2 separate regions of the Homo sapiens genome follow, and region 2 is linked to region 1. A link means that fine-mapping ties the variant in region 1 to the expression of a gene that starts in the linked region. Tissue or cell type: whole blood. Region 1 holds a variant in brackets; the other region holds the start of a gene. All regions are shown on one strand. Distances are between the middles of the regions. Region 1 overlaps CCDC138 (coiled-coil domain containing 138). Region 2 holds the start of CCDC138 (coiled-coil domain containing 138).

Region 1 (2,920 bases):
TTTGTGATATATGATTTAAAAACTGTAACCGATAATTTAAAAATGGAAAGAGAACACAAAAAACTAAGCAAAGTCAGGAAAATGATGCAAGAACAAAGTGACAGTATAAACTAGAAGATACAAATTATAAGAAAGAACCAAATAAATTCTGGAGCTGAAAAATACAATATCTGAACTATAAAAGTCAACAGCAGACTTCATTACGCAGAAGACATCAACACACTTGAAGACAGATAATCTAAAATTGAGTCAGAGGCTGGGCACAGTGGCTTACACCTGTAATCTCAGTGCTTTGGGAGGCCAAGGCAGGAGGGTCACTTGAAGCCAGGTGTTCAAGACCAGCCTGGTCAACATGGTGCGACCCCGTGCCTACAAAAAGTTCTAACAAAATAATAAAATTATGTCAGAGGAGCAAAGAGAAAAAAACGAAGAAAAGTGACGACAGTCTGAGGGACTTATGGGAGATCATCAAGTGAACCACTATATGTGTAATGTAAGTCTTGGAATGAGAAGAGAGAAGGAGAAGGAGGAGAGAGCTTATTTGTAGAAATAATGGCTGAAAACATCCCAAACTTTCCTTTTTTTGAGGAAAGAAATAGGCATACAAGTTCAAGAAACTCAAGGAACTCCAGAGAGGACAATTCTAAAGACACCCCCTCTAACATACATTATAATCAAATTGTCAAAAGTAAAATACAAAGAGAATCTTTTAAATTGACAAGAGAAAAGCAGCTGGTCACGTTCAAGGGAGTTCTATAAGAATTTCAGCAGATTTCTCAGCAGAAACCTTGCAGGCCAACAGGCAGTGGGATGATACATTCAAAGTGCAAAAAAAAAAAAAAAACAAACAACAAAACTGTTAACCAAGAGTACTATATCCAGCTAAACCGTCCTTAAGACTTTCTCAGATAAACAGTAGTTGAGGGAGTTCAGTAACCATTACACCTGCCCTATAAAAATTACTAAAGAGAGTCCTTCAGGTTGAAATGAAAGCACACTACACAGCAACATGAAGCCATATAAAAGTATAACATTCTGTGTTAAAGGCAAATAAATGGACAAATATAGTAAGTAGCCTATATTATTGTAATCCTGGTATGTAAGTTGATTTTTAATTCTTGCATAGAATGTAACAGACAAAAGTAT[T/TA]AAAAAAAACTGTAAGTCTATGTTAGGGGTTAATACAACATATAAAGATATAATTTGTGGCCGGGTGCGGTGGCTCACGCCTGTAATCCTAGCACTTTAGGAGGCTAAGGTAGGTGGATCACCTGAGGTCAGGAGTTTGAGACCAGCCTGGCCAACATGGTGAAACCCCATCTCTACTAAAAGTATAAAAATTAGCCAGGCATGGTCATACGTGCCTGTAATCCCAGCTACTTTTGAGGCCGAGGCAGGAGAATTTCTTGAACCTGGGAGGCAGAGGTTGCAGTGAGCTGATATCATGCCATTGCACTCCAGCCTGGGCAACAGGGTGAGACTCCGTCTCAAAAAAAATAGAATTTGTGATATCAGTAACATAAAGTGGGAATGTGGAGCCATAATGATGCAGAGTTATTGTATTCAGTTGGCATTATTGATGTAAAATAGTTATAACTTTAAGATGTTTTATGTAATTGATTGCAAAGAAAATACTTACAGAATATACACAAAAGCAAATGAAAAGGGAATCTAAGTGTGTAACACACACAAAAATCAGTGAAACCCAAAGGCAGTAAGAAAGGAAAGGAGGGACAAAAAAGCTACAAAACATACAGAAAAAAATTAACAAAATGGTAATAGTATGTCCTTCCTGGCCGAGTGTGGTGCCTCATGCCTCCAATCCCAGTACTTTGGGAGGCTGAGACAGGTGGATTATCTGAGGTCAGAAGTTCAAGACCAGCCTGGTCAACATGGTGAAACCCCATCTCTACTAAAAATACAAAAATTAGCCGGGCGTAGTGGTGGGTGCCTATAATCCCAGCTACTCCAGAGGCTGAGGCGGGAGAATTGCTTGAACCCAGGAGGTGAGATTGTGCCACTGCGCTCCAGCATGGGCAACAAGAGCGAAACTTTGTCTCAAAAAAAAAAAAAAAAAGTATGTCCTTCCTTTATCAGTAATTACTTTAAATGCAAATAGATGAAATCAAAAAACTAACTAGAGTGGCTGATTGGATTTAAACAGCCAGCACCCAACTGTATGCTGTCTACAAGGGACTCATTTTAGATCTAAAGGCACGTATCAGCTGAAAATGAAAGGATGGAAAAAGACAATCCTTGTCAATGGTCTCCAGAAAAGACTAGTAGTAGTAATACTAATATAAGACAAAATATACTTTACGTCAAAAACTGTTACAAGAGACAAAGGACACTATATAAATGATAAAAAGGTAAATTCACCAAGAAGATATAAATGAGAAATATTTATGCCCTGAAACATCAGACTTCTAAAATATTATAAAGCAAACATTGACAGAATTGAAGAAATAGTAACATAATACTACTAGGAAACTTCAATACCCCACTTTCAGAAACAGATAGAATAACTAGACAGAATATAAGTAAGGAAATAGAGGGCTTGAACAACATAATAAATTAACTCGATCTGTCAGACATATACAGAACACTCTACCCAACAACAGCAGATGATACATTCTTCTCTTCTCAAGTGTACATGGAACATCCTCCAGATAAACTACGTGTTTGGCCACAAAACAAGTCTTAATAAATTTTCAAAGATTGACATCATTACAAAATTTCTGATCACAATGAAGTGAAACCTCAAACCAAGGAAGGATAACTATAAAATCCACAAATATGTGAAAATTTAAAAACTCACTCTACAGCAACCATTGGGTCAAAGAAGAAATCCCAAGGAAAATTGGCAAATACCTTGAAACAAAAAAATACATCATACCAAAATTTATAGGATGCAGTGTTAAGA
Region 2 (2,920 bases), 35 kb before region 1:
ATCACCATTCCACTCGGCCACAAAGCCAGATACTTGAAATAAACCTACTCCAAATGTATCAGTTCAGTCTTGAACCATGGATTACATATGTTTACACTAAATATTTCAAATTGGCTTATTTGGAAATCTATGTAATATAAACTGATGTAAAGTGTGTTGTAACTTTTCAGCTGAGACAGTTGATGCCTTCGTCATGATTTTAGAATAAATTCTTAAGTTAATGCAAGTGCTTTTTAAGAGACTTTTTACAGATTTGTATGCTTTCCTAAAGCACTAAAGTTACAAATTAAAAAGCTTTAAAAACTTTGACCAAAAATTTGACAAAATGACATGTAAACTGACTTTTCCCGTATTAGTATTCCAAAGATGCTTAAAAGTGGCTTGTGGCATTTATGAGAAAGTCTTTGTGTCACATTTCAGGAAAGGACTTTGATTTCTCTTTGTTATTTAATCACTGATGTGGTCTAAACCCACGATAATATGTATCTTTCCTTTTAAACTGGATTTTATGTTGTCTCATTAAAATCTGCTTAAAGATAGAATAAAATTCATTATTTGTACATCTTAAGTGGTACTTTATGGCAAAAAGTATGGCCTAAGTAATTTTCAGATAATAACTGCTGAAGTACAGATTTTATAAAACTTGGGCATTTGGGAACTTTAATCCAGAGAATTTAGGAGTTGTTAGTCCAGAGATGCAGCTGACAGTCACAATTTAGAAAGTAAAAGATTACACCACTGTAATTTTATGAATGAGAAAAATGAAGTGGTTGTACAGTTCCCCTCAGTCAGTTTTGTTTAACATAGGTTTTCAGGTTGATGTATACTATGTACTATGGTTAGCACTGTTGTAGGTATTGGCAAAAGCTTTTTTCTTTTCAAAAAAAAAAAGTTTTTTTTCCAGGGTGCTTACATTCTAACTATTCTTTTTAATACCCTGTTATACCCCATATGGAACACAGGGAAAGTGAGGTAATCTGCAATGTCTATGCTCAGCTTTCCCTTTTTTTTTTTTTTTTTAACTTTAAGAGATGGGAGTCTTGCTATGTTACCCAAGATAGATGTAACTCTCAGGCTCAAAGCAATGCTCCCGCCTCAGCCTCCTTAGCAGCCGGGACTACACGCGCGCCACCACTCCCGGCTCAGATATACTCTTGGTTTTTCTTTTATATGGCAGTTAGCAAAGGTCACTTCTGATGGAACGACCGGTCTATGTGGTGAGCGCAACGCACACCAAACTTAACAGGTTAAATGGAGCTGGAGCGGAGCGCTGCAGGCAGGTGCGGGGCCTCGGTGCCCCTCAACCCGTGGCACCCAGGCAGCCGGGGCAGGACTATCGCGGGGAGATGCAATACTACTCAGTTACGAGGTGTGTAGTGCTAGCACGAGAAACTTGGAGGACGCGCTGACAAGCCGGGCTGCAGTCTCCGGGTCGCCCCGCCCCGCCCTTTCCCTGCCGCCGTGCGTGCCTCGGGGGGGCGGGGTCTGGCACGTCGTGACGCACTGCGGCCGCGTAGCGCCGCGGGTTTGATGAACGCGGTTCCCGGGGAGACTGGTACGGTTGCTGTGTGCTATGGAGCCGAGGGTCGTCAAGCCACCGGGGCAGGATTTAGTAGTGGAGAGTCTCAAAAGCCGCTACGGACTCGGGGGCAGCTGCCCCGACGAGGTGAAGCCGCCGCCTGAGGTCCGCGGGTGGGCTCCTGCTGCTGGGGGGCGGCCCGCTCCGTGCCCCGCGCAGCCGGCCTGGGGGCGCGCAGCGGCTCTGGTCCCGGCCCCGGCACTCCCGCCGTGGCTGCGGCTTGGGCCTCGTGGAAGCAGGCGGGAGGGGCGGGCGTTGCGCTGCGGGGGTGCGGGGGTGCCGCTTCACCTATGCCTCTGTGTTCCTGGTATACTGGGCATGGTGTGGTGTTGGAGAAAGTGCTATTCAGCTTTTTTTTGCAGTGATGTGAGTGGAGTTGTGAAAACAATTGAATTGCTTTTTAAAAGCGGCTTATTTCGAAATAATTTCGGACTTACTCAAAAGTTGCTGCAGTATTACCAAGAATTCCCTTGTACCCTCACTTGCATTCACAAATTAATATTTTGCCACATTGGCTTTACCATTCGTTCTCTCCCCTTCCCTCCCTACAAACGCATTTTTTCCCTTTGAACTATTTGAGGGTGATTTGCAGGCATCATGCCCCTTTACCTCTGAATAGAAATAACTTGTGCATTTTTCCTAAGCATAAGGACGTTGTCTTTTAATAACCACAGTAATATTTTCAGGAAATTTAGAATTGGTATAATATTTGGTAATCTAGAGTTCATAAGAAATTTCAGCAATTATCTCGATAAAACCTTTTATAGGAAAATTTTTTCCTAGTGCAGATCCGACCCAAGAACGAGCATTGATTGTATTTGATTGTCCTTTTTGTTGCCTTTAATCTGGAACAGGTTCACAGCCTTTGTTTTCTGTAAGGTTGTTTTTTTTTTGAGAAGTGTAAGAATTATTTATTGGATTGTTTCTCCGTTTGGGTTTATCTTATAGATGCTTCTTCGTTAGATTGATTATGCATTTTTGGCAGGAGCATGAGATGAGTGATGTGTGGCCTGCTGTGGGGAGGAACATGACGTTGGTTTGTCACATTATTGATGATATTAGTTTTGATCACTTGGTTAAGATGGTGTCTACAAGATTTCTCCACTCTAACCTTTGTAATTAATACATAATTTGTGGGGAAATATTTTGAGACAGTAAATTGATTTTTAGTATACAAATTAAATCTTTTCTTTTTTTTTTTAGTATGATTTTTCAAATTTTTATCAGTCTAAGTATAAGAGAAGAACTCTAACCTCCCCAGGTAAGCCGGTATTTTGTATATTTGGGGGTTTCAAAAATTTAATTTGAGGCTGGGCGCGGTGGCTCACGCCTGTAATCCCA

The links.
Region 2: it holds the start of CCDC138, and the variant in region 1 is fine-mapped to the expression of CCDC138 in whole blood (INTERVAL, PIP 0.94).

Annotation. Positions count from the first base shown.
Region 1 is chr2:108,819,872-108,822,791 of GRCh38, forward strand. The region is part of intron 10 of CCDC138 (coiled-coil domain containing 138); the gene reads left to right. It also overlaps a transcript of RANBP2 not described here. Among named protein-coding and RNA genes, the nearest start is that of CCDC138, 35 kb to the left of the region's middle. The variant T/TA (reference allele first, on the strand shown) is at 1,147.
Region 2 is chr2:108,785,250-108,788,169 of GRCh38, forward strand. CCDC138 (coiled-coil domain containing 138) reads left to right here and starts at 1,522. Exons shown (of 15, transcript NM_144978.3): 1 at 1,522-1,666; 2 at 2,783-2,840. The coding sequence starts at 1,574. RANBP2 (RAN binding protein 2) reads left to right here. Exons shown (of 29, transcript NM_006267.5): 29 at 1-560. RefSeq lists a silencer at 1,331-1,920.